4 linked regions of the Homo sapiens genome follow. The protein of the gene in region 3 interacts with the protein of the main gene of each other region in a pairwise test. Each region holds a gene or a part of one and is shown on either strand. Other genes may lie near its edges. The genes, in order: SPATA2L, XRCC1, TDP1 and RNF111.

Region 1 (7,741 bases), on a different chromosome or scaffold from region 3:
CATGCTGGTCTCAAACTCCTGACCTCAAGTGATCCGCCTGCCTTGAGCTCCCAAAGTGCTGGGATTACAAGCGTGAGCCACTGTGCCCGGCCTAGAATTTTTTTTTTTTTTTCTTTTTTGAGACAGAGTCTCGCTCTGTCTGGAGTACAGTGGCACGATCTCGGCTCACTACAACCTCCTCCTCCCGGGTTCAAGCGATCTTCCTGCCTCAGCCTCCTGAGTAGCTGGGATTACAGGTGCGCACCACCACGCCCCACTAATTTTTGTATATTTAGTAGAGACGGGGTTTCACCATGTTGACCAGGAAGGTCTTGATCCCTTGACCTCATGATCCACCCACCTTGGCCTCCCGAAGTGCTGGGATTACAGGTGTGAGCCACCGCACCTGGCCGAATTTCTTAAATTTAATGGAAAAAACAATGAATACATTAACCTAGCTCACAAATCAGAACAAAATGAAGAGCCCCTGTACTGAGAAATTCCACTGTCTTCTGTCCCACCGCTCCCTTCACCCCTGGAGATGGCCTCATCTAATTAGTTTTGAATGTACTTGCCCAGGTGTTTGTTTTGCAAACCCAAATACAGATTTCGTTTGCTCCTCGTATGAGGTAGTCCCCCCTTTTTTTTCACCTCTTTGTAAGGTCTCTAACCAAAGCTAGACAGGTAGCCTCTTAAACGTGTTGTTCTGAACTTTGTTTTTTTCCACTACAGTCTTGCAGACAAGGACAGAAGCTGTAACGTTCATTCCCCCTGCTGTGTAGTATTCCACCATGGGGGTGACACGTCTGTTTTCAGCGCTCTCCAGAGGCTGTCCATGCACTGGGCTGACAGCCGTGGGACGGTAGAAGGGTGAGTGCTCTTTTTTTTTTTTTTTTGAGACGGAGTCTCACTCTGTCACCAGGATGGAGTGCAGTGGCTCGATCTCTGCTCACTACAACCTCCACCTCCCAGGTTCAAGTGATTCTCCTCCCTCAGCCTCCTGAGTAGCTGGGATTACAGGCGCGTGCCACCACACCCAGCTCATTTTTGTATTTTTTAATAGAGACGGGGTTTCACCATGTTGGTTAGGCTGGTGTCAATCTCCTGACCTCGTGATCTGCCCACCTCGGCCTCCCAAAGAGCTGGGATTACAGGCGTGAGCCACCGCGCCCGGCCTGGCTGAGTGCTTTCTAGCCTACACTTAGGTGAAGAACTAAAGGAGCTCAGGACAATCACTGCGAGCGTCTCCTGACTCTCAAATTCCCTAACTCCGGGACTCCTAGCATCTAATGCCTGGACACGGCCCACGTGTGGAGCGCCCAGTGCCTGCAGCACTGAGCTCGGGGCTTTGATTCATTCCTCTGGCCCCATGAACTGGACTGTTCCCGTGTCGCTGTCTCAGGAGGAAAGGGGCTGACAGAGATTAGCTAATTTGGCCAAGTCCTCGCGGCCAGGAAGCAGCAGAACTAAGTCCAAACCAGGGCTGTCCGGCACTGAAGCCGGTTATTCCCCCGCCCCGCCCCCTGGGAGGCCTCAAGGGCGGGCCTGTCCGTCCTCTCTCATGAATGAAAGTCCTGGCGCCTCCGACCAGCAGGTGTCCCCGGGGAGCCGCGGAGAGACTGCCGCTGCCATGGCAACCGGCGGAGGCGTAGCTCGCCCACGTGCCCAGTGACGTCATCGGCTTCCTACTCTTCCGAATTAGCTCAGAGCTCCCGGCGGCCCTGCCCCCTCCTGCCGCCAGGAGCTCACCTGGAGAGGCCAGGCCAGCCCTGGGCACAGCCTCCCGCCCCAGGCCGTGGAGTTCACTAGGTCTGAGCCCAGCCCTGAGACTTCACAGGGATGCACCCATCTGCAGTCCTCCCAGCCTCGGCGGCCTCCTCTGCAAATGGGATTGGCCCATAACCTGGAGGAATTAGGATGACCATGGGAACTCAAGTCCCTTCTGTGCCCCCGTCCTAAGATTTCCATGGCAACTGGGGCCGCGAGGCCTCTTAGGGAAGACACTGACGCAAGCTCTCAGGGCAGGACCCCGTAGGCAGCACCCAAGCCTGCCCTCGCCCACCCCATGTTCTCAGCCCTAGGAGTGGGTGCCCCCACACGCCCACGACCCCTCAGCGCTCGGAGCCTTGAGGAGCCCACCAGGCACTGAGGACACTTGAAGCCCCTCTCTCTCGAAAGGCGTGGTCCCCCATGGTCGGCGGCCCCGCGACCCGCAGGCCAGGACGAGGGGCGCGCTCCTCCTGGCCTGGCGCCTACCTTGATGGTGGTGAACTCCTTCCTCCAGGGCAGCAGGTACAGGTGCACCGCGGCGAGCTCCAGAAGCTCGAAGGCGCGAGCCAGGCCGCGTAGCGCGGGCGCCAGGTCGGCGCGGCCCCACAGCCCGTCGGTGAGCAGAGCCAGCGCGTCGTCCTGCAGCGCCCCGTGCAGGTCGAAGTCCTCCACCAGGATCTGCCAGAGCACCGCGCGCAGCGAGGGGTCCCCGCACACGCCCGCGCGGCCCCGTCGCAGCTCGCGCTCCAGGCACTGGCGGTAGTCCTCGGACAGCGAGCTGCTGCCCATCCTGCGGCGGACGGGGGTCGGGGGGGTCAGGGACCTAAGGCCGCGCCCAGCCCGCCGCGCTCTCCCCGAACCCTCACCCAGCGTCCCCAGGACCCCTCGAGCCTGGAGACCCCGCCCCCAGCGGCTGGGCGCCCCCGGTATCTTCGGCACCCCCTACGCTGGAGACCTCGGCCCCATCAGCTGCCCGCCCACCCAGCGATCCAGGCCCCTCCAGTTGAGCGCCCCCGCACCTCCAGCCCCTCCCTCCAGCCTGGGTACCTCGGCCTTCCAGGGGCGCCCCCGGTTATCGACCGCACCCTTCTCTAGAGACGCGCTTCCGCCCGCTGAGCCCTCTCCCGACCAGAGCCCCTTCGCCCGGCAGATGGAGCTGCGGATCCCGCGGGTGACGGCGCTACCTGTCTGTCCCCAGCGGTCTCCGGCCGCCGCGGATCAGTTCGGGCCTCCCCGCGCGCCGCGCGCTTCCGCCGGGAGTCGGCTCCGCCCGGGGTCCGCGGCCGTGACGCTGGGGGCGGGGCGGGGCTTGGCGCAGGCCCCGCCTCCGAATAATTTAGGAGGGGCGGGGCCTGGTGAAAGGGGAGGAGGAGGTGTCAGCCCGGCCGAGCCCCTGCGCGAGGCACCCCGAGAGCCTCCTGTCACCGCGTCGCCCGTCTCCTCGCGGGACCGGTATCGTTCACGACGCCGCTGGGCCGAGGGCTGCGGGCTCATGGCAGGCGCTCAGGGAACGTTGTGCCTGGGCCGCTCCTCCCCACGAGACAGGGACCCAGCCCCAGGCGACCCGGCCGCGGGGAAGCAGGTGCGCGGGCTCGTCCCCTGGGGGGTGGGGCCACCGGCATTACCTGGCGGGGATTGGCTGGATCCTGGGAAGAGCCTTTCCTGCGGGGCGGGGCCACCTGCATTACCTGGCGGGGATTGGCCGGATCCGGGGGCGGGCCTCCCCTGTGGGGCGGGGCCATCCCCTTGAGGGAGGGGCCCGCGGCACGGAAGGTGGGCGGAAGGACAAGCCTTTCAGCCTCGTCTGAAACAGCAGCCTCAGGTGGATGCGGGGACCTCAGATTCTGTTTATGCTGGCTCCGCTTCCCGGCCTCCTGCACTTGCCATCTGCAGCCCTTGAGAGCATCGTCTGGGCGGGTCTCTGAGGCAGGGCGAAGCCGCCCCCCTCTCTAGGCTAAAAGCTGACCTGGGCTGCGGATCCACCCAGGCTAAATCTGGGCCACGACTTCCCGGGGACGTTTTCTTCGCTCGGGTTCCTCTGTTCTGTGCTACAGCCACTTTCTCGCATTGCCCAGAAGTAGAGGAGGATGAGGGAGACCCTTGGAGGTCCCAGCCGAAACCCACCCCTACCCCACACCCCCGCTTTGGGCAGGCTTTGCTACTTCACGTCTGTGTCCCTCATCTCTCCAGGCCACCAAAACCAAGGCCCAAGTTTGTTGAAACTTTCCCTGGGCCTGGGCGGCGAGGTCCCCCCTTTTTCTTAGATTTTTTACCTGGAAGTTCCCTGCTGGCATCTTAGAAATAGTGATCATGACCGGGTGCGGTGGCTCACGCCTGTAATCCCAGCACTTTGAGAGGCCGAGGCGGGCGGATCACCTGAAGTCAGGAGTTCAAGACCAGCCTGGCCAACATGGTGAAACCCCGTCTCTATTAAAAATACGAAAGTTAGCCGGGCGTGGTGGCACATGTCTGTAAGCCCAGCTACTTGGGAGGCTGAGGCAGGAGAATTACTTGAACCTGGGAGGCAGAGGTTGCGGTTGCAGTGAGCTAAGATCGTGCCACTGCACTCCAGCCTGGGTGACAGAGCGAGAATGTCTGGAAAAAAAAATCGTGATGCAGTCGGTGGATCTCCCTGAGTTATCTAGGTGGCCACCTCTGGACAGGGAGCTCTTTTACTTACTGTTTACTGAACTCACTCTTGGTGCCCAGTGCCACCATGGGTCCACACCAGTCCTCAGGACAGCTAACTTCGTAAGTCTCATCTTTATTCTTCTTCTGATGCGGAGGAGGGTGGAGGTAACTGTTCTGCCTTTGTCCTCACTGAATTTGGCAACACCAGTCCATCCATCCAGCAGTGGGCCTAGCTCTCCTCCCATAGGCCTGGGTGGGTTTTTGCACCTGCCTCAACCCATGGAATAGAACTGATGTGGAATGAATTCCAAGGCTAAATCATAAACATGCCATACCCTGGCCTTGTCTTGAGATCCTTGGCCTCTGACATGGTTTGGTTCTGTATCCACACCCAAAATCTCATCTTGAATTGTAATCCCACAGGTCTGGAGCAGGACCAGGTGGAGATAATTAAATCTTGGGGGCAGCTTCCTCCATGCTGTTCTCGTGATAGTGAATTCCACGAGATCCGATGGTTTTATAAGGGGTTCTCCCCTTTGTTCAGTGCTCATTCTCGCTCCTGTCGCCCTGTGAGGAGACGCCTTCTGCCATGATTGTGAGTTTGCTGAGGCCTTCCCCAGCCATGCGGAACTGTGAGTCAATTAAACGTCTTTTCTTTATAAATTATCCAGCCTCAGGCAGCTATTTACAGCAGCATGGGGACGGACTAACACACCCTCAGAACCCAGCCACTAGAGTGAGAAGGCCACGGCCGTGTGCAGAGCTTTTGGCCTGCAACTTCGACCTGCGACTCACATTCACCTGCAGCCTATTCTTGGGACTTTTTTGGAAATAGTTTTTCCAGACAAAAATCAAGATGAGTTTGTTCTGGGCCGAGCGCAGTGGCTCACGCCTGTAATCCCAGCACTCTGGAAGACCGAGGCAGGTGGATCACGAACTCAGGAGATCGAGACCATCCTGGCTAACACACTGAAACCCCATCTCTACTAAAAAATACAAAAAATTAGCTGGGCGTGGTGGCGGGCATCTGTAGTCCCAGCTACTCGGGAGACTGAGGCAGGAGAATGGCGTCAACCCAGGAGGCGGAGCTTGCAGTGAGCCGGGATCGCGCCACTGCACTCCAGCCTGGGCCACAGAGCAAGACTCTATCTCAAAAAAAAAAAAAAAAAAAGGATGAGGTTGTTCTGGGTTGGCATGGGCCCTCAATCCAGTATGACTGCTGTCCTTATGAGGAGAGAGAAACTTAGATATGAACGCACAGGAGAGAAGACCGCTTAAAGACGGAGGCAGAGTGGAACGAGGGTGCCGTGAGCGAAGGTAACACAGCTGTGTTAGAGCCACCAGAAACTGGAGGCAAACAGAATTCTACCCTAAAGCCTCCAGAGGGAGTCAGCCCTGCTGACAGCTTGATTTTGACTTCAGGCCTGCAAGATGGTGAGAGAGAACATTTCTGTTGCTGTAAGCCACCCATTTTGTGGTCGTTTTGGCAGCCCCTGGCAACACATCCAGTCCTCACGTCGTCGTTCCGACAGCCCTGAATGAGGTCCCAGCCGACAGCTGGCACCAACCATAGACAGCAGACAGCTCTTCGGATGAATCCAACCCCTGGTCATTGGGTTACCACCTAGAAACAGCCTCCCATGATGCTGAGGAGCCATCTGGCTGATTTTTGTACTTTTTGTATTTTCAGCAGAGACAGGGCTTCACTATGTTGGCCAGGCTGGTCTCAAACTCCTGACCTCAGGTGATCCACCTACCTCGGCCTCCCACAGTGCTGGGATTGCAGGCGTGAGCCACGGTGCCCAGCCTAATTTTTAACTTTTTAGTAGAGAGGGGGGCCTTACTATGTTGCCCAGGCTGGTCTCAAACTCCTGGGCTCAAGTGATCCCCCCGCCTCAGCCTTCCGAAGTGCTGGGATTCCAGGTGTGAACCACCATGCCTGGCGTCTTGAGTATTTAAGCCCCTGAGTTGGGGTAGTTTGTTAGGCAGCGGTGGCTACGTGGGCTGTACACATTCACGGCTCCCTCCCTTCCTGCCCGGGGATGGACACTCCATGAGCTGCCGTGTGGATTCTCCGTCCTTCCCTGCCCTCCCGGGACAGACACTCCATTGCCTCCACTGCATATACATCCTCTAAAACCGGCAGCAGCCTTGCCAGGTCGGAGGTTCCGTCCACACTTACCTGGACTCCAGGACTGCACCTGGTCCCCTGGGGCCACTGCCGTGTCCACCCCACAGTGTGCGTGAGCTCCCTCCCCCTCCTGTACTCAGCATCGTCCAGCTTCCTCATCTTCTCCGGTCCAATGGATATAAGGTTACATCTTGTTTACTTTTCATTTGATTTTTGTTATGATTTGGACACTGCTTATGCAGAATAGTTTTATTTTTATTTTTTTTTAGATGGAGTCTCGCTCTGTGCTCAGGCTGGAGTACAATGGCGTGATCTCGGCTCACTGCAGCCTCTGCCTCTCAGGTTCAAACAATTCTCCGGCCTCAGCCTCCTGAGTAACTGGGACTACCGCCACCACGCTCAGCTAATTTATGTATTTTTAGTAGAGACGGGGTTTCGCCATGTTGGCCGGGCTGGTCTCGAACTCCTGACCTCAAAAGAGCCGTCCGCCTCGGCTTCCCAAACCGCTGGGGTTACAGGCATGAGCCACTGCGCCCAGCCATTACTTTTTATTTTATTTTTATTTTTTGAGACGGAGTTTCTCTCTGTCGTCCAGGCTGGAGTGCAGTGGCACGATCTCAGCTCACTGCAACCTCTGCCTCTCAGGTTCACGCCATTCTCCCGCCTCAGCCTCCCGAGTAGCTGGGACTACAGGTGCGGGCCACCACGCCCGGCTGATTTTTTGTATTTTTAGTAGAGACGGGGTTTCACCGTGTTAGCCAGGATGGTCTTGATCTCCTGACCTCGTGATCCGCCCACCTCGGCCTCCCAAAGTGCTGGGATTACAGGCGTGAGCCACCGCGCCCGGCCATTTGTAGGATTTCTAAAAGGAAGCTGCTATTATTCATTCCTGTCTTATGGGGGAGCTGCAGGCTCAGCGAGGGCAAAGCTGCACAGCAAACAGCAGCACTTGAACATGTCTGCCGGGTCTCAGCGCCAGGGATACAGCTGAGCCAGGACGTTCCCGGCCCCCACAGTGTGCAGGCTGCAGGTGTGGCCCCGATGCCAAGCCAGCAGGGGCTCCCACGCCAGGATTTGTTCAAGACACAGCTCATCTCCACCATTCTATGAAGCGGACTTTAAAATCCCATCTTCTAGACACCAACGCTGAGGCCGGAGCAGCCCAAGCTCCAAGGCACCGTGGCCAGCTGGGGTTCGTATCGAGGGCTGGGGCAGATGCTCCAGCTCTGC
Region 2 (7,023 bases), on a different chromosome or scaffold from region 3:
GCTACTTGGGGGGCTGAGGCGGGAGGATCACTTGAGCCCAGGAGGCAGAGGTTGCAGTGAGCTGAGATCATGCCACTGTACTCCAACCTGAGCAACAGAGTGAGACCCCCATCTCAAATAAATAAATAAATAAATAAATAAATACATATATACATAAATAAATAATATGGTTAAAAAAAGAGACAGTTTGGTATTGGCATAAAGAAAACTATACATATCAATGGAACAGAGAAGAGAGTACAGAAATAAACCCATACATATGGTTAATTAATTCTCAACAAGGAGTCAAAATGATTCAATGAGAAAAGGCAAGTCTTTTTTTTTTTTTCAAAGTATTTTCAGCCAGGTGCAGTGGCTCAGGTCTGTAATCCCAATACTTTGGGAGGCCAAGGTGGGAGGATCACTTTAAGCTCAGGAGTTCAAGACCAGCCAGGCAATGTAGTGAAACCCCATTTCTACAAAAAATTTTTTAAAAAATTAGCCGGGTATGGCGGCTCACACCTATAGTCCCAGCTACTCAGGAGGCTGAGGCTGGAGAATCCCTTGAGTCTGGGAAGCGGAGGTTGCAGTGAGCCAAGATCATGCCACTGCACTCCAGCCTGGCCAACAGAGTGAGACTCTGTCTTAAAATAAATAAAATAAATAAATAAGCATTGTCAACAAACATATAAAAAAGATACAGAAAAGGGCCGGGTGCGGTGGCTCACACCTGTAATCCCAGCACTTTGGGAGGCTAAGGTGGGCAGATCACAAGGTCAGGAGATCGAGACCATCCTGGCTAACACAGTGAAACCCTGTCTCTACTAAAAATACAAAAAATTAGCCGGGCATGGTGGCACGTGCCTGTAGTCCCAGCTACTCCGGAGGCTGAGGCAGAATGGCGTGAACCCGGGAGGTGGAGCTTGCAGTGAGCCGAGATCGCGCCACTGCACTCCAGCCTGGGCAACAGAGTGAGACTCCATCTCAAAAAAAAAAAAAAAAAAAAAAAAGATACAGAAAAAATAAACCTTATCCCCTGCTTCACACAATACACAAAAATTCACTTGAGATGAAACAGAGATCTAAATGTAAAATCTAAAAATAGAAAGCTTCTAGAAGAAAACATAGGAGACAGGCAGAATAACAGCTCCTCAAAGATGTTTACATCCTAATCCCTGAACCTGGAAATGTGGCAGAAGGCACTTTGCAGATGTGATGAACTTGAAGATGTTGAAATGGGGGAGATGCCCCTGGATTATCCGGGTAGGCCAAGTGTCATCATAAGGGTCTTTATAAGAAAGGAGGGCTGGGTGTGGTGGCTCATGCCTGTAATCCTAGCACTTTGGGAGGCTGGGGTGGGTGGATCACTTGAGCCCAGGAGTTTGAGACCAGCCTGGGCAACACAGTGAAACCCTCTCTCTATAAAAAATAACAAAAGCTAGCCAGGAGTGGTGGTGTGCACCTGTAGCCCTGGCTACTTGGGAGGCTGAGGTGGGAGAATCACTTGAACCTCAGAGGCAGAAGTTGCAGTGAGCTGAGAACACGCCACTGTACTCCAGCCTGGGCAACGGAAATGAAACCCTGTCTCAAAAAAAAATGAACAAAAGAAAAAGAAGGCCAGGCGCAGTGGCTCACGCCTGTAATCCCAGCACTTTGGGAGGCTGAGGCGGGCAGATGACGAGGTCAGGAGTTCGAGACCAGCCTGGCCAATATGGTGAAACCCCGTCTCTACTAAAAATACAAAAAAAAAAAGTTAGCCGGGCGTGGTGGTGGGCACCTGTAGTCCCAGCAACTCGGGAGGCTGAGGCAGAAGAATAGCTTGAACCCGGGAGGCAGAGGTTGCAAGGAGCTGAGATCGCGCCAGTGCACTCACTCCAGCCTGGGCGACAGAGCGAGACTCCGTCTCAAAAAAAAAAAAAGAAAAAGAAAAAAAGAAGGCAAGAGAGTCAGAGTTGGAGAAGTAACAATGGAAGTGGAAGCAGGCGTTAGAGTGACAGGAGTGCTGGCTTTGATGAAGGAAGGGTCACAAGCTGAGGAGGGCAGATGGACTCTAGAAGCTGAAATAGGCAAGGAAATGGATTCTCCCCTAGAGCCTCCAGAAGGAACAGGGCTCTGCCTACACCTAGATTTTAGCCCAGTGAGAGTGATTTCAGACTTCTGACCTCCAGAACAGTCGAATAATACATTTGTGTCATTTTAAGCCATGATCCAAACTTGCTCTCTTCCCTGATGTGCAGTTTACCGCCCTGTGTCTGCCTTCTGTCTCCTCCGTACACTGGGTGATCCTCCAGAGGGCAGCAATCAGGTGTGACTCACATCTGCCCCATGTCTTCCCAGCCCCAGCCCCTGGGGGAGACGGTGATGCGAGCATGAGGGGCAGAGGTCAGTATGGGATCCATCTCATAGCCCTGCTTACCTCATAGTCTTGCTCCCCAGCGCCTCCAGCTGAACTGCCCACCAGCACCTCCACGAAAGCTGAGCCATCATTCCCAATGTCCACACTGTGTATCTGCTCCTCCTTCTCCAACTGTGGGCAGAGAGAGAGGCCACTGTCAGTGCCTGCTCTGCCTCTGGGCTCACTGTGGGACCTCAGGATGAATCTCCTTTGGATCACCATGTCCCTGTAATGTCAATTCTGTGAGGGGGCACACCAGGGTTGAATGGTGCCATGTGTCCCCTCCATGCAGCACAGGGTATGGCATGGAGCAGAAACTCACAAAATAGTCACTGAATGAATGCATACGCGCCCACCTCACACATACCTGCTTCCCTGACCTCTCCAGACTCCACCAGGTCAGCTTATCACACACTGCCATAGAGCTCTCCTTGATAAGCACTTGCCAGAGTTATAACTTTATTCAAATCATCATGCAGACAAACAGCACATGTCACCCCTCACCCACAATCGCAGAGGACTCCAGGAAACCTCCCTGAGGGCAGGGGCTTTGTCCGATCTTGCTCACCGCTGGTTCCTGGGTTTGAATCCCAGCTGTGCTGCACACTAGCTGTATGACCATACCAGTTAACCTTTTGGAGCCTCAGTTTTCTCATCTGTAAAATGGGAATGACCACCATATCTAGGATCATGCACATAAATAATGGCCACAGGGCATGGCGAAGAGTAGGCAATTATCTGCTGTCAGTCAGGAGGTATTATTAGTCAGTGCTAGACAACTATTTGTTGAAAGAAGAAAAGAGCTACCTATAGGAGGGCTCATCTCAAAGGATCTGCCATTCCTGTCTGACAGATGAAGATGCAGAAAGCCGTGCGGGCCATGCGGGCACGGGAGGCAGTTAGGTTGAGGCAAGTGTCCTGCCTTCCAGTTTGGGGCTCTTTTATTAGGATCCTAGAATGACGCATTATTACAACTCTCAAAGGTACCTGGGCCAGGTGCAGTGGCTCAAGCCTGTAAATCCAGCACTCTGCGAGGCCAAGGCAGTGGACCACTTGAGGCCAGCCTGGCCAACATGGCAAAACCCCTTCTCTACTAAAAATATAAAATATAGCCGGGCATGGTGACACATGCCTGTAGTCCCAGCTCTTCAAGAGGCTGAGGCACAAGAATCTCTTGAACCTAGGAGGCAGAGGTTTCAGTAAGCAGAGATCATGCCACTGCACTCCAGCCTGGGTGACAGAGCGAGACTCTGTCACAAAAAAAAAAAAAAAAAAAACCAAGGTACCTAGTCCACCCTACACTGCCCTCTCCCACCCCTGGTGATGACAGATGCTCCAATCTGCTCTGTTGCCTCCCTGTCAGATCATCTAGACATCACCTGCACACTGCTATCAACAGGAACACCACTGTATGGAAGGAGGGAGCCTGGACTTGGGGTGAGGTAGGCCTGGGCTCAAATACAGCAATGCCATTTCCAACCTGCACAACCTTGGGTGACGTATTCAACGTCTCTGTGAGGCAGTTTCCTCACATGCAAAAAGGGAAGATGGTCATTAACAACCCTCCCTCCTTGGCCAGGCGCAGTGGCTCACGTCTCTATAACCAGCACTTTGGGAGGCTGGGGTGGGAGGATCACTTGAGGCTGGGAGTTCAAGACCAGCCTGGGCAACATAGCCAGACCTTGTCTCTACAAAAATTACAAAAATTAGCAAGGCATGGTGGCACATACCTGTGGTCCCAGCTACTCAGGAGGCTGAGGAAGGAGGATCGCGTGAGCCTGGGGAGGTCAAGGCTGCAGTGAGTCATGTTCGCATCACTGTACTCTGGGCGACAGAGTGATGAGACCTTGTCTTCAAAAAAAAACTTACCCTCCCTCTGAAGGAAGTTGAGATGACACAGAATTAACAACTATAACCACAACTGCGGCCAACATCCGAGTGCACTGAGCGCTCCTGGTGTGCCAGACTCCTGCTAATAATACATGTATCTACTCTCCTGCAATGGCTCTGCCAGGCAGTTGCTATAATTATCTCCATCTTACACATGAGCAAACGGAGGCAGGAAGTGGTTATGTAACTTCACAGCTGGTGGGTGGCAAAGCCGGACCGGAACCCAGGCAGGCTGGCAACAGTCCACGCGTGCTCCTCCATCACACCACTGACGTGCTAGAGGAGGAAGATGGTGCTGGAGGAAGGGCCTGCCTAAGGCTGAGGCCGGCAGACCTCCTGCTGACTCCCCTGCCTCCACCGCCATTCCCAGCCCTGGGCCCTGGGCAGTGTACAGTGCTGCCTGGGCTCATGAGATGTCCCAGTCTGGGCCAGGTGTGGTGGCTCACACCCGTAATACCAGCACTTTGGGAGGCTGAGACAGGTGAATCGCTTGAGGTCAGGAGTTTGAGACTAGCCTGGCCAACATGGTGAAACCCTGTCTCTACTAAAAATATGAAAATTAAAATTAGCCGGGCATGGTGGTGAGCGCCTGTAATCCCAGATACTGGGGAGGCTGAGGCAGGAGAATCACTTGAACCCGGGAGGCAGAGGTTGCAGTGAGCCGAGATTGTGCCACTGCACTCCAGCTTGGGCGATGGAGTGAGACTCTGTCTCAAAAACAACAACAACAACAAAAACAACAATAACAAGAAGTCCCAGTCTGACTGCTCCCCAGGCCAGGCTTGGTGACTTTCCACCAGCCACAACGGCCTCCCTTCTGTGCCAAGAACAGTCTGGCTCCTTCCCACCTCAGGGCCTCTGCACCTGCCAATCCCCCTGCCTAGACCACTCTTCCCTCAAACATATCCATAGCTGGGTAAAAGTTTGCCTTCTGTGCTTCAGGTGCCCACTCAGATGTCACTTCAGACCATAAGTAACCTACCTCGCCCCCTACCTGGTGCCACTCTCTATCTCCCTACCCGACTTTACTTTTCTTCATGATTACTGCCTGGTGTTACACAGTTACATCTTTTTTGTTTGTATTTGTCTAGCATCTGTCTCTCCCGCCAGACTTTTAAGCTCCACAAGAGCAAGGACAGTATCGTCTGAGTTGTTCCCTACTGTGTCCCCAAGGCCAAGAACAGTGTCTGGTCCTTCCCAGCTCTGCTGATTTCCTGCTGTGTGATCCTGGAGCAAATGGTTTCATTTCACCCCTTGTGCCTCAGTTTTCGAACCTATGAAATGGGGACAATAACAACGTCTATCTCATAAAGTTGTTGAGAACATTCAAATCCATACCAAGAATGAGAAATAACATACCAAGTGCCTGGAATACTGCCTGGCACCGAGCAAACACTACATAAATGTCAGCTGCGAATATCATTAACACAGCAGGCCTCTACTGCATTCCCAATGGATGTACAGACAGACGCAGAACAGGCGCCCAGCAACCGTTTGCAGAAGTTACTACTCAAGAGTTATTAAGCAGTAACTCTGGCTCTGTCCTCCCTTACCAAGTGGCCCTGTTGAGCCCCTTCTCTGCTGCTTGCCTGGGTGTCCCATCTGTCACAAGAGGATCATCATGGCTAACATTTTCGGATTCTCACCATGTGCCAGGTGCTTGGTGTATGAGTTTCCTGTTACTGTTGTACAAATTAGCACAAACTTTGTGGCTAAAAACACAAATTTGGCCAGGCGCAGTGGCTCACGCCTGTAATCCCAGAACTTTGGGAGACTGAGGCAGGCGGATCACCTGAGGTAGGGAGTTCGAGACCAGCCTGACCAAAATGCAGAAACTCCGTCTCTACTAAAAATACAAAATTAGCCAGGCGTGGTGGCGCATGCCTGTAATCCCAGCTACTCAGGAGGCTGAGGCAGGAGAATTGCTTAAACCGGGGGGGCGGAGGTTGCAGTGAGCCGAGATCACACCACTGCACTCCAGCCTGGGCAAGAAGAGCGAAACTCCGTCTCAAAAAAACAAAAAAAAAACACACAAATTTAATATCTTACAGATCTGGAGGTCAAAAGTCTGAAACTCGGCCTTACAGGGCTAAAATCTAGATGCGGCAGGGCTGCATTCCTTCCTTCCGGGAGCACTAGAGGAGAACGTGTCTCCTTGCATCTTCGGCTTCTCGAGGCCACCTGCCTTCCTTGGCTCACAGTCCCTTCCTCGTCTTCAAAGCTGCTGAAAGCGCTGGCATCACTCCAGGCTCTGCTTGCATCTTCACAGCTCTGGTTCCAGCTCTCTTGCCTCCCTCTTTCCCTTATAAGGCCTCTGGGGGTTACGTGAGGCCCACCAGATAATCCAGGGCACTCTCCCCATCTCAAGATCCTTAATTTAATCAAACCCACAGAGCTCCTTTGGCCATTAAAATATTTCCAGGTTCTGGGGATGAGGACATGAACATCTTTTGAGCACCACTGTTCTGTCCACCACACTTGGCTAAGCATGGGCCGGGCATCACTGAAGCCTCAAAACCACTTTAAATAGAAGGGTCTGTTACGACTCCAGTTTCACAGATGGGGAAACTGAGGCTCAGACAGGTTTAATCAATAGCTTACATGGCACACAAGCTAATAACTAGCAGAGTACTTCGGACGCAACTGCCTGACTGCAAAGCACTGTCCAATACCACCACTGTTCTCAACTCCTTTCTTTCCATCCCTGAGTCAAACTCAACATCTTTACCTCTCCCACAATATTCAGCATAGCTCCTAAA
Region 3 (7,023 bases):
TAAATATGTACTGAATGCCTACCTAGAGGGCTGGAGAGAGCAGAAAAATAAACTGTAGCTCATCTGACTGACGTTTTGTTTAATTTAATATGTATTATTTTCCTTAACACAGGTTAGGCATTAATACTTACACATACACTTCCCAAAAAGCCCAAAGTTTCCATGTCCACCTTGGGTACAGCATGGTGTAGGAAACAGAGCTGAACCGACAACTTACAACACCCAGTTTCTACTGCAGTGCTCAGCCCCTGAAGGGCCACCCTATCCTGGACAAGCCTCTGGCTTAGATTTACACTTCAGTGGAAACAGGCACCTAATCACCGGCCGGCCTTCCTGGAAGAAAGCTGTGGTGCAACATGAGCAACTGTGTGTAAAAAGTGGTTTGAAAACTCTTAACATACAGTTGAACTTTCAGTATCAGATGGTGATCACACATAATACGTGCTATTATCTAGCCTATCTAAACCATTAGACATTTGTCCACAAACAACTGTGTATGTGCACTGAAGACTTACTGTGTGCCCTGTACTATTTTACATTCATCATTTCATTTAATCCTCACAATCACGGGAGGGAAGTACTATTATTATGTCCACTTTATAGATGACAACCGATGTATGTTAAGGAACAAGTCGAGGTCACACGGCTTGTAGATAACAAAGCAGGGTTTGAACCCAGCTATGGATATCTGCCTCCAAGACTGGGCACAGGCCAATGTGCTGAACTTCCTCTCTAGGCCAAGACATAAAGATGTCTTCAAGATCTTGCCTGCTTTAAGCTGTGGTCTCATTTCATAAAAGGAAATTAAAATAAAAAGTTTCATTAACCAAGGGAAAATTCTTAGACTTTAAATAGTTTATGGAATAAGAGGTTAAGGCTTTTAAGAAAGCCACTTTAGGGAATTTATTTATTTTTTTGAGACGGAGTCTCGCTCTGTTGCCCAGGTTGGAGTGCAATGGTGTGGTCTCAGCTCACTGCAATCTCCGCCTCCCGGGTTCAAGCGATTCTCCTGCCTCAGCCTCCCGAGTAGCTGGGATTACAGGTGCCTGCCATCATGCCCGGCTAATTTTTGTATTTTTAGTAGAGACAGGGTTTCACCACGTTGGCCAGGCTGGTCTTGAACTCCTAACCTTGTGATCCGCCCCTCTCAGCCTCCCAAAATGCTGGGATTACAGGCGTGAGCCACCACACCTGGCCAGGGAATTTATTAAGGTCAGTAAACCACCTAAAAAGAGATGAAAAAAACTTTAATCTTCAACTTATTTTATGACCTTTCTTCGTGCATTTTCATATCAGCAGCAAGTATTATTTTTGAATTTGTTTTCTTAAGGGCACTGGTTTAATAATCAAAATATATTATAGCTCAGTTGTAGTCTTTACTCAACATTTTCTGTTTGTTGAATTTATATCTTAAAACTTGATATGCTGAACAATCAAAAGCTATAATCAAAGCTACAGTATGTGTATGAATAGGAAGCCTCTATCTTTATTACAATATAAAAACTAGAAAAGGTCTATATATTTATGCCATTAACAGCCTACAGCTATAAAAGAGGCAAAACACATTAAAAAGCAGTAATTACTAAGAATTATAATTATCAATTTATCAAGTATCTATTTGCCCAGAATTGTGCAGAAATATTGTGAAGCTGCATCAAAATATATAATTATTTTAAAAGAGAGAATATACATTAAATTTTTTAAAAATGTTAAAATAGTAAAAGTTCTGTTACCTTCTTAAGTCTAAAATGTCCCCAATTATCTTTTTGACTTCCTTGAAAGCGTCCTGGGGTTGAACCAATAAGATAAACACTAAAAAGACATAAAAACACAAGTTATAAAATATAGTGATGTGCTTTGGGCACCAAAAAAAATGACAAAATACACATGAAAACTAATATAATCAAGAAATGATCTAAGAGCCAATCCATTTTCTTGAATTGACTCTCAAATTCATTTTCAAGCAAATCAACTAATGATGGAATGCCTACAAGATGTAAAGTACCAGACAAAGAACTCAATAATTGTGAGAGTAACCCAGTGGGAGGCTAAGGTAAACATGAGGATTCACTGGCTGTCACTTTAATGCCTGAGAACCACAAGATACAGATGTGATAGAATCTGCTCATCCCCTCATCACATCCTGAAGCTTGGCTAGATTTCACCCCACCTCTTTCCAGGCCCCTGCATGCCAGACCTCATGAGGCTCCCAAGGTATAAGCCTATCATAAGCACCCCAAATTGATAAGCTGACACATACTTTGTTTCAGAGAGATCGTGCTTGTGAATGACATCTATCCACTCCTTGAGAGAAGGGGCATTATAAGCCATCAAGTAACTGATGAGATCAGCTTTAAAATGTGTTGGCGACTCTCCAGATTTGTGGGTTCCATCAGCAATTCGTGGGTATAAGGGGCTCAACCATATTCTGGAATTAAAAAAATAACCTTTAACAGTCAGGCACACAACTGATCATAATGATCTCTGTATCGATTATGCCTTCATCCTAAGAAAGAGGTGAATTCTCGGTATCTCCACATGGTAAGTAATCTTAGGAAACATGAAACATAAATCTGAGAACACCACTCCAATGGTTTCTCATCACATTCAGAATTATTCCTGAATGTCTTGCCATGAATTTAAGATTCAGTAAGACCTGGGCTCTGCCCACCTCTTCCAACCCACATCCCTCCATGCTCCCTCTCACTTGCCAAACCTTCCTTATTGCTCCTCTTACCTCTGCACCTATATATTGCTTTCTAAGACTTGATGACAAGAGTTAAGAATTCTACTCTTAACGGTTAAAGCAAATCCATGCTACTAGTGGTAATCCCAAGCAAGAATTTGCCCTTGTCTGCATCAATGCAGCTCTTCAGCCAAATGTGAAATAAGAATTGTGTTATCTATACCAAAAGTGCATGTGAAAAATCTATTTTCAATTAACAAACCCATTTTCATAACGTAGGTCCTATAGCAGCATATTTTTATGTCTTATACTTTCTGGTGCCTGGATTAAGTATATATCACATTCAGTGACATTACAATAACCTCAAACTTTCAACACTTAATTCACTGAAGAAGCATTACAGACATCTTTCATTTCATTAATTCTTTTTCCCTAGAGGAAAACAATGCTCTTTGCCAAAACTTCTACATTATATCCATAAATAGAAAACAATCATATCTAATCCCAATCCTTCTATAAACTGCTCCACAGTAGATTACTAAAATGGCTTCAAACCTCTTGTGCTTCAGTTTCTTCAAATGCAAAAAAGTGGGGTTAACAAGGCTGCCTCACTGGGCTGTTGCAAAGCAATGACTTACAGGAGCAGTCAAAAGTATCAGGTGTTACTTTTTTCCCCTTCTGTGGCTACTCTCCTTTTCCCCACCCTGGGTTCTATCTATTAAGCTGAAAGAGAAACTGCCCAATTTCTCTTTCACCTGGCAGCCCCTGAAGGAGACTGGCAAGATGCAGGCCACCAGGGCAGAAGGCATCCAGAACTGCAAGGACTCTCGGCCGTACATCTTCTCAACTCTGCAAGTTTCTAGCAAGGGGCATTTCATACCCCTGCTTCCCACCCTGGGGAGACACTTAGCACAGGAGGTAGCATGGTGTGATGAGGGCTGGAGCCCATGTTCTGGACCCAGATCGACTAGCTGACTATACCATTTTGGGTAAGCTCTGTGATCTCTCTGGGCCTTTGCCTCCGTGTGTAAAATGACCAGGTTGGGCTGGACAGACGTGGAGGACCTCCCCTTGCAATAGCACCTCAAAGTTCCCAGGCTGAGTGAGGCTCCTCCTGGATCAGAGATTCACTCACAGGTGAGTTCTGGATGAGAAACAAGACAAATGACTTTCTAAACTAAGATGCTGAGATATGAGGCATTTTTAACACATCACAAAATGAGAAAATTATTATAATGAGCCAAATAATTTTATTTTATTCTTTACTGTGAGCTTTGGATGCAACTCTTGTTCTAATTTTAAAAAGTGAGAAATCAACAGGTGGATCATGAGGCAGCTGAAGGGGATTAGCAGAACCACAGTAGACCAATTATGAAGTGAGATTGTATACAAAAACTGCTTTCAAAAGTTTTAAAATTACCACAAATAACATGAAATGCAAAACATTAGAGAGTAGAATATAGGCCAAGCATGAAATAATAGGATCCCACACCAGGATGGCTGCCAGAGGAAGATTTCATAGTCTTGGTACTTTCTGAGTTTTGAACCGTTCCTACCTAGTCAATAAGTTTTCCAAAATTTTAAATTAAAAAATACTTTTTTTAAATAAAAGAAACACCCAAGCCCTTATCCCTGCCTCTTCCCTCCTGGCAACCACCCCAGAGAATCCCAAGACAGTACTACTGCCTGTAAGCTAAGCTTCCAACTTCAGAAGGAGCTGGAGGCCCAGGGTGGGATTCTTGGAACCACGTGAGGCTGAGAGCTAACCTGAGAAATCCCTTTAGTAACATTGTTTCATGAGAACAAGCTACATTAATCTCATTGCCTTTTGATAGGGCCACATGAATCCCCAAACCCAATCTGGCAGCTCAGGAGAACTGGCTTAGAAGCTCTTGGGGTACCAAAGGCATAGTTAACCATAAATTCAGTAGATCAAGAAAGTGCTACAGCTGAGACTTAGAGACCAAGCAGCTATCCCCTCAACCCTGGACCAGTCAGAGCCACACTTCATTTTGAAAAGCATATTTTCAGTGGGATACTGAAAAATTATAACATGTTTATAGAAAAGCGACCAGGAATTACAGCTAGGGGTCTCAAAGCCACATGCTATGGTGGGGCAAGGGAGTGGGGAGGGAACAAGAGATGTAAGGCTCAGAAACAAGACTCCCTTTCAAACTCTGAAGGACTGCTTTAAGGGAGGGAGATTACATTTGTCCTGCGCAGTGCACTCAGGTTGAAGCAAGACCTGTTGAAGGAAACTGGAAAGCTATTTCAGCTCAAACTAAGATGTAACTTGGGGCCAGGCACGGTGGTTCATGCCTGTAATCTCAGCACTTTGGGAGGCTGAGGCAGGCGGATCACTTGGCAACTAGGCAAAACCTTGTCTCTACAAAAAATAAAGACAGTTAGCCAAGTGTGGTGGTACGTGCCTGCAGTCCCAGTTACCCAGAAGGCTGAGGTGGGAGGATCACCTGAGCCCAGGAGGTTGAGGTTAAAGTGAGCCGTGATCGCATCACAGCATTGTAACCTGGGTGACAGAGTGAGACCGTCTCAAAAAAACAAACAAAACAAAGATGTAACCTGGGCTCAGCAGAGCTTAGCTGAAAGTAATACACTCCAAATTAGGAGTTCTAGCCCAAGCTAGGCAATGATATGGGGCAGGGTGAGGCAGAGGAGGATGACAGAGAAAACGTGAACCTGGAAATGGTGCTAGACAAACGTCCGAGTTTCTCCCAACACAGAAGGCTGTTTGTTAACCAGCTCTTCTCTAGCACAGGCAGAGATGTACAAAATGGCTTAAACAAAAGAAAATTAAAGTTAGTCATAATCAAGAACAATAGCTGAACTTGTTGAGCAAATCCCTAAAGCTCCCTTTTAAAAAGCAAACCCCTCTTGAAAAGGGGATCAAAACCTGGATCTAGCATATGTGCACCAAGTACAGAGGGTTAGTAGTTTAAAAAGTTCATAAAAGCTTTCGTATTCAGTTCTTCTCTTGGAGATTCACAACTTTATTAACACACTAAAGGCTCTAAAAAGACACCAGCTTAAATTTGTTTCAAAGAAAATACACCAACTGGGGGAGTGGGGAAATATTTAGCACACTATTAACATGACCAGGCCCTACCCCAACTTTTCCTTTGATTCCTGTTTGGGAAGTGGTAAGCAAAAATACAGGTGGGTACATGAGTAAGGAGAAATCACAAAAGCTATCTGGTAAATCCTACTAGGAAAACAATAGGTTCAGATCTTTCATTCTGTAACCCCTTTTCTGCCTCAGATCTCTGCATGTGCTGTGCCCTCTACTTAGCTGTAGAGTGTATATGATGCCACTTCTCTAAAAACTAGGAAGAGACTACTGTGTGTAAATAGTAATGTATGTTTACATGTACAGCAGAGGTAGCTGTGGATGATGATGCTCCTGTTAACACTGGTTACCCCAAGAAGGTAGAATGGGGCAGGTAGTAAAAGAATACAGTAACTTTTTCTGCATACAACTCTTTTTCTAGGCCATGTGTGTTATTTTTACAACTTAAAAAAAAAATAGAAAAAAGAATAAAGTGAATGTTCTGGCTTTTGACCTTTATCAACACACACACTGCCAGGAAGTGAGCAGGCCCCTACGAACCCTTGAGTTTTCTGGTGCCAGTCAGCATGGATGAGGTTGGAGGTGTGTATGACAACCCGGAGGCCTTCTTCATAGAGCAGCAGCATCATTTTCCTTTAAAAACAGCAAAGGATCAAAAAGCATTAATAGTACTTTCAAAATATGTAATACCTTTCCAATGCAAATGTAATACATAGCTAAAGGAATTTTTTTAAACTCTCATATTACCCAAACTTAACATTTATAATCTTCCCTTCTATACATTACCATGATGAAAGTCTGCCTAAGTGATAGGATGAAAACCTTTCAGAAAGGTTGAGTATTTGGTGGTAAAAGAACTTTCAACCCTAGTGCCAGTCCTGGCACTTCACATCCCTCCAGCCTGGCCCCTTATTATCTATTCAGCATTACCTGTTACTACTAGGGACCGTTGGAACCTTCTGGTCTGGTGTTTGAGATTCAAAGTATGGTCAACAACCTCTTGCTGCATCATGGCTGGCATTTTTTAAACAACTAAAATAGCATAAATTGGTATACTGTATATATTTAATTACTGGTTCATGAAATTTTGTTTTGGCACAAAGGTATGTTAGTGCACAATACACTGAAATGTAAAGTGTATTTCTTATTATGAGTTGAAATTTTAAGAAGTTTAAAAGATGCTTCATTACCATTAGTGGTTTTTTGTATCCATAGATGCCACACTTGTCAAAAGTGTGTTATCTGGGCTTGG
Region 4 (7,023 bases), on a different chromosome or scaffold from region 3:
GTGGATCGCCTGAGCTAAGGAGTTCAAGACCAACCTGGGCAACTTGGCAAAACCCATCTCTACAAAAAATACAAAAATAAGCCAGGTGTGGTGGTGTGGGCCTGTAGTCCCAGCTACTTGAGGCGCTGACGTGGGAGGACGGCTTCAGCCCAGGAGGTGAAGGTTGCAGTGAACCAAGACTGCATCACTATACTCCAGCCTGAGCAACAAAGCCAGATGCTGCCTCAAAAAAACAAAGGAAAAAAAATTAACCAGTCTTTTTTAGTGACTAGAACTGTTCTTACTATGGCTGAATCCATCATACAGGTAGCTGAAAAAGTATTCATAACAGTCAAGCATATTAAAGAAACACAAGGAAAAAAATGTGTACCATAAATGAAGAACATACATAAAATATAATCTAATATGTATAAAATGTAATAAATGAGGCCAGGTACAGTGGCTCATGCCTGTAATCCCATCACTTTGGGAGGCTGAGGTGGGCAGATAATTTGAGATCAGGAGCTCAAGACTAGCCTGTTCAACATAGTGAAACCCCGTCTCCACTAAAAATACAAAAATTAGCTGGGCATGGTGGTGGGCACCTGTAATCCTGGCTACTTGGGAGGCTGACGCAGGAGAATTGCTTGAACCCAGGAGGCGGAGGTTGCAGTGAGCCGAGATTGCGCCACTGCACTCCAGCCTGGGTGACAAAGTGAGACTCTGTTTCAGAAAAAAAAAAGTAATGAAGGGTTATTCTCCCAAAAAACTCTGACTTATTTTTGTCACTAGAAATTTTTTAAATTTTTATCTTAGCATTAGAGTCATGGTTTAATACTGCAATTGGTAATTTATATGACTTAAAAATAAAAGTTAATAGAACCTGATAGTCCCTTTAAATAAAATCAGTAAGACACAAACAAAAAATTAAGCACAAATGCAATGCAATAGGTTCCATGTTTTACTCAGCTTAAACATTTTTACCTGAGGGAACAGCTGGATTGTTTTGGTGGTTTTCACTGGCAGAAACAAACAAATCTTCTTCTCCTTCAGTTGATGAGCTAGAAGAGGATTCACTGCTGAGGTCATTCTCACTGGAACTACTAGAACTAGGTAGCAAGGCATATTTTCTTCGAGCTAACACTTCTCGTTTCTTCCTCTGCATTAATATCCTCTCTTTTTGTTTCTGTGTCCTCTGTGAGGAATTATTTTTTACAAATCTCTTTCTGCATGGAAGTCTCCGTAACGAACTGCCATGTAAACAGGGTCTTTTCATTAACAATCCCGATACAGATTCTGTCTCAGTCCGAGGCCACTTATGAGACCGTGCACTATGGCTTCTACTTTTAGCATTCAAAATGGTCTGGGAATGTCTTACAGAGACTTCTTTATCCTCATCTGAAGTCACAGTATCAGAATCTCCAAAATGCAGACTAGATGAAGGAGAAGAAAGACAATCACTAAAAGAGGAATCATTATCTTCATCACTTGGTGTCCCTAGGTGTTGCCTCAGTCCTAATATTCCCTGGTTTTCTTTAACACAATTCTGCACATACGAAGGGCCAGCCTGCTGGCTTTTGCGTTTTTTCCTCACAACGAGACTTTTTTCTTGTTCTTGCTGGTTACCATTCATTTCCTTCTCTTGCTTTTGAGAATCATCACACAGGTGAGAGAATTCATTCCCCACTTTACTATTAATCATCTCAACTCCTGCAGGAAAACTTTTGGCTGCCCCAATGGGCTCTGGATGCAAAAGGATCCCTTTCAGACTCTCCTGTGTCTTTGGTGCATCAGAAGGAATCTCACTCTTCATATCCACTTTTAAGGTGTAGAGCTCGTTATATTCAGGAGTCCATTGAGACATGGGAAACTTTAAGGAAAGCCTAGAAGACAAAATTAGATATTTAAAAGATTTTTAATGTGTTTTATTATACTATTTAATTGAAGAGTTCTCAAATTCCACCAAGAAGATCCCTTATAAAGGCAGAACTGTCTTTTCCTCATCAGTACACAAAATGTCTGTTATGAATTATTTTACTATTCTTATAAAACGTTTTTCTCTGGTCACTCTACTCATGCATCCAATTTTTAGAAATACAGTAGATATAGAGCATAAGCCTACTTAAAAACTTCTATTAACCAAAAACTGATCTTATTGCATATCTCACTACCTTCAGCAACAAAACATATTTGGTCAAATCAAACAATTACTTCAAAACCTATTTCAGTGAAATATAAATAAAAGGATTCGAATTCAAAAGACTAATTAGTCAACATGTTTTACTCCTGGTATGACATTTTTAAGTGGTTATTATTAAATGTTTCTGTACATCTAGATGGTTACTACATTAGATTGATATTATTAATAATGAGCTAATGAATATAAGCTTCTCTTTTCTATTTTTTTTCCTTCATACTACTCTATTAATTCTCTAATGAGAATCTGAATTCTCCTGATAGTAGACACAACTACTGCATTTCAGTTTTAAATACAAAAAGATTAGAGCCAAGACTGTGGGCTGCTGAAGATCATTCAGTTAAATAAACAATACAGCAGAACATAAAATCAAACTTTGTACAGCTAATCTATCTAAATCATTCAACATCTTAAATTACGAGCTGCCAAAAAGAGATCTGAATTTAAAGCATTTACATCAATGCAATGTACATATGAAAATAATGTAATAGTAAATATCATGACTCAAAATGAAATATATTAATCAGAAAGGCAGTAAATGTGACAAATGAAGAGCTTTACTAGTGCAAAACATGAATAAACAATGTTAACATATTTTTAACAAGTTTTTATTAAGTATAGCATACACACATATTCTAAGTTTATAGATGAATGAACACTAAAAAAATGAACACCTCTATGTAACTGGCACACAGATAAACAACATAACCAGCACCCTAGAAATCTTCTTCCCATTACTACAGCCCACCAAACTGTTAACCACTATTGTAACTTCTGACACCACAGATTTGTTTTGCCCATAAAATACATTTTGAAACCAGTTCCTAAAAAGCGAGTACAACAGCTGTTTAGTAAGCAAGTATTTTCCCTCTCTACAAATGGGTTACAGAAATATATAATCTTACAGGTCTCCCATGTTACTATAGTATATAACTTTACTATCAGAACAAATGACAATAATTAAGGCATAGAATGACCTATTCCTACAGAAAGCTATCAAAACCACTATCTTCTTTTATTCTTATTCACAAGCACAGGCAGTGCTGTATCCAAGATCAGCCATCACGCGCTATCTGTAGTTCAGCAGGATCAGTGATAAACCAGGAATACAAAGATGAGTGAACATGAGCATGGCAATGAGCAAATTACAGAAGGCAGCCAGTCAGACAAGGATCACTTTAATTAAAGGCAAGAACACAGAAGTCACAATGATAAAACACAGGTACATGTGATCTAAGAGTTGAATGGGGCCAAACAGGATGGCTGTAATAAAGAACACAGGTAATAACAAGTGTTAGAGAGGATGCATAAAAAAAAAACATTGGAACCCTCATATATTGCTGATGGAAATGTAAAATGATACAAGCTACTTTGGGAAGCGGTCTAGCAGATCCTCAAAAATTAAATACAAGCTGGGCGCGGTGGCTCATGTCTGTAATCCCACCACTTTGGGAGGCCAAGGCGGGCGGATCACTGGAGGCCAGGAGTTCGAGATCAGCCTGGCCAACATGGTGAAACCCCATCTCTACTAAAAATACAAAAATTAGCCAGGATAGTGGCGCACTGACTGTAATCCCAGCTACTTGGGAGGCTGAAGCATGAGAATCGCTTGAACCTGGGAGGCAGAGGTTACAGTGAGCTGGGACTGCACCGCTACAGTCCAGCTTGAGCAACAGAGCAAGACTCTATCTCAAGAAAAAAAAAAAAATTAAACACAAAATTGCTATGTGACCTAGCATTTCCACTCCTAGGTATGTACCCAAGAGAAATGAAAACACATATTCATAAAAAAACTTATAAACAGCAACATTAGTCATAACAGCCAAAAAAGTGGGAACACAAATGCCAATCAACTGATGAATAAATAAATCCATACAAAAGATTATTACTCAGCAATAGAAAGAAATGAAGTACGGTAGTCCCTCACTATCCAGTTTAACTTTCCACAGCTTCAGTTACTCACACTATGAGAGAGAGACCACATTCACATAAGTTTTATCACAGTATGTTGTTAGAATTTTGCTACTTTATTGTTGTTGTTAGTCTCTTATTCTGCCTAATTTATAAATTAAACTTTATCATAGGCATGTAGGTATATGAAAAAAAAAACACTATATGGTTTCAGGCATCCACTGGGGGACTCAGAATGGTTTCCCCTTGGACAGGGGCGCAGACTACCATACTGACTCAAGCTACAACATGGATAAACAATATGCTAAGTAAAAGAAACCAGTCAAAAAGATAACATAATGTAAGATTCCCTTTATATGGAATGTCTGGAATAGGCAAATCTACATAGATAGAATGTGGTTACCTAGGGCTGGGGATCATCGGAGGATTCAACTATGATGGCCGAAAAGCATGGAGTTTCTGGCCAGGCGCGGTGGCCAAACCCTACACTTTGGGAGGCCGAGGCGGGCAGATCACCTGAGGTCAGGAGTTCGAGGCCAGCCTGGCCAACATGGTGAAACCCCATCTCTACTAAAAATACAAAAAATTATCCGGGCATGGTGGCGTGCACCTGTAATCCCAGCTACTCAGGAGGCTGAGGCAGGAGAATTGCTTGAACCAGGGAGGCAGAGGTTGTAGTGAGCTGAGATCACACCACTGCACTCCAGCTTGGACAACAAGAGTGGGGAAAAAAAAAAAAAAAGGTGGGCCAGGTGCAGTGGCTCACGCCTGTAATCCCACCACTTTGGGAGGCTGAAGCGGGTGGATCACCTGAGGTTAGGAGTTTGAGACCAGCCTGACCAACATGGTGAAAAGAAACCCTGTCTTACTAAAAATACAAAAATTAGCCAGGCATGGTGGCAGGCACCTGTAATCCCAGCTACTCAGGAGGCTGACGCAGCAGAATCGCTTGAACCCAGGAGACATAGGTTGCAGTGAGCCGAGATTGCGCCATTGCACTCCAGCCTGGGCAACAGAGCAAGACTCTGTCTCCCAAAAAAAAAAAGAAAAAAAGGTATAGAATTTCTTTTATTTTCAGTGAACTGAAAATGTTCTACAACTGATTGTGGTGCCAGCTATTCAACTCTGTGAATATACTAAAAACCCAGTGAAATAAAATCTCAATAAAACTCCTGCCAGAAAGTCAAGAGGTTTAAAAAAAGTGAAAAAGTCAAGAGGAAAAGTATCAAGATTTCTAGGCATCAGAGACTCCATCAGCAACAGAAGTCTCATGATGTATGTTGGAAACAGCTGGGGTTCTTCCAGAAACCCATGTCAGAGTTATGTTCTGGTGGATTTCAGAGGAGGAGATCTTGGAGTCTTTATGGGCTGAAGATTTAAAAATTAGACTCCTCATCCGTAATTACTAAGTCCTCATGTTGATAATGGAGATCATGAGAAGCAATGAAAACTTGCCAAAAACCAGACAAATTCTGAGAACATGCAGCCATACATTAATTTACAAAGAAGCAATTCACAGCACAATTAACTAAACCCAATTTCTTTTCCATCATTTCATGTCCCAAAGCCAAAACAATGCAATCAACTCTTTATGGTTAAATCTGCTCTGATTTTTGATCAGTTTAGTCTGTCCAATGAGACAAGGGTAGAGGAGAGCAAGGGGGGGTGGTTTGGTGTATGCTGTGGTGTGTGTTTGTACACCAGTTAACTCTTCTCTGAGTTAACATATCATGCAGTCATTAAATGCAAAATTAATATCCCATATAACTAAGAGGTTCCCACCCAGGGAGTAATTCATACTATTTTTTTTTCTAAAATCCATCGCTGTATTGTATCATGTTCTAAATTTTTTTTTCTAAAATCCATCCCTGTAATTGTATCAGGCTGTATTTTGAACTTAGAAGAGGAAAGTTCAAAAGGAAATAAACACAAGTATTGCATTTAACTTAAAAAGCAGCAAATATAACAGATAATATTCTAAATTATTTGCTGTTTGATAAAACCATATTCTAGTCTTTTATTTTTGTAAAAATTATTGGCTGATCTAATTTACAAAGGAGGCAAATGCGTACAAGATATATCTCCTTGGTGACATTATAAATGGCTTGCTGTTACACACTGTTTCAATACTGAAACCATAATACTAGTCCCTCTTTGTGTAGATCGATCCAATCATTTCATTGCTATGTCATGATGACTGCATGCTAATTACTCCTGATACTAGTGTAGAATACACCACTATTAGTAAACCTTGCACTAAGAAAATACGATAGCTAAAAAAAAATACTAACTTTCAAAACTAAAAATTAGGGTTGGGATTTAGTAATTCACATCATAAACAAGTTTATGTGAGCAAAAGGAGGAAAAACCCATTAAGACTATCCATACAACTCTGAGGAACTCTACTTCTAAACTGTGATACACTATTATTGGTATGATGCTTCACCACCAATTATAAATATGAATACTTGTTTCAACTTTAAATAAAAATGTAATGATTGCTTACATGACTCTAAAGAAATAAGATTTTAAAAGAAAAAAAAAAAGCCGGCCGGGCACAGTGGCTCACGCCTGTAATCCCAGCACTTTGGGCGGCTAAGGCAGGCAGATCACCTGAGGTTGGGAGTTCGAGACCAGCCTGACCAACATGGAAAAAACCCGTCTCCACCAAAAATGCAAAGTTAGCCAGGCGTGGTGGCACATGCCTGTAATCCCAGCTACTCGGGAGGCTGAGGCAGGAGAATCGCTTGAATCCGCAAGGCAGCGGTTGCGGTGAGCCGAGATCGCGCCATTGCACTCCAGCCTGGGAGACAAGAGCAAAATTCCGACACAAAAGAAAAAAGAAAAAAAAAAAGCCATAGATGACTTGGCATTTTTCTACAAAAGTTTTAGAGATTATCAGAAAATCAACTAGAAATATGTCTACCATTTAACTA

The links.
Region 1: the proteins of TDP1 (region 3) and SPATA2L interact in binary tests that used the Homo sapiens proteins (3 or more experiments, as listed by UniProt).
Region 2: the proteins of TDP1 (region 3) and XRCC1 interact in binary tests that used the Homo sapiens proteins (3 or more experiments, as listed by UniProt).
Region 4: the proteins of TDP1 (region 3) and RNF111 interact in binary tests that used the Homo sapiens proteins (3 or more experiments, as listed by UniProt).

Annotation. Positions count from the first base shown.
Region 1 is NC_000016.10:89,698,695-89,706,435, forward strand, and holds the start of SPATA2L (spermatogenesis-associated protein 2-like protein), read right to left. Parts: upstream 3,012-7,741; 5' UTR 2,934-3,011; exon of another isoform or gene 2,797-2,933; intron 2,540-2,796; 5' UTR 2,539-2,539; coding exon 2,236-2,538; intron 1-2,235.
Region 2 is NC_000019.10:43,558,515-43,565,537, forward strand, and holds part of XRCC1 (DNA repair protein XRCC1), read right to left. Parts: intron 2,507-7,023; coding exon 2,396-2,506; intron 1-2,395. UniProt on the Homo sapiens protein: Scaffold protein involved in DNA single-strand break repair by mediating the assembly of DNA break repair protein complexes. Negatively regulates ADP-ribosyltransferase activity of PARP1 during base-excision repair in order to prevent excessive PARP1 activity.
Region 3 is NC_000014.9:89,979,921-89,986,943, reverse strand, and holds part of TDP1 (tyrosyl-DNA phosphodiesterase 1), read right to left. Parts: intron 6,405-7,023; coding exon 6,312-6,404; exon of another isoform or gene 6,265-6,311; intron 5,482-6,264; exon of another isoform or gene 5,384-5,481; intron 3,831-5,383; exon of another isoform or gene 3,668-3,830; intron 2,429-3,667; coding exon 2,261-2,428; intron 1,813-2,260; coding exon 1,734-1,812; intron 1-1,733. UniProt on the Homo sapiens protein: DNA repair enzyme that can remove a variety of covalent adducts from DNA through hydrolysis of a 3'-phosphodiester bond, giving rise to DNA with a free 3' phosphate.
Region 4 is NC_000015.10:59,025,643-59,032,665, reverse strand, and holds part of RNF111 (E3 ubiquitin-protein ligase Arkadia), read right to left. Parts: intron 1,863-7,023; coding exon of another isoform or gene 1,844-1,862; coding exon 964-1,843; intron 1-963. UniProt on the Homo sapiens protein: E3 ubiquitin-protein ligase. Required for mesoderm patterning during embryonic development. Acts as an enhancer of the transcriptional responses of the SMAD2/SMAD3 effectors, which are activated downstream of BMP.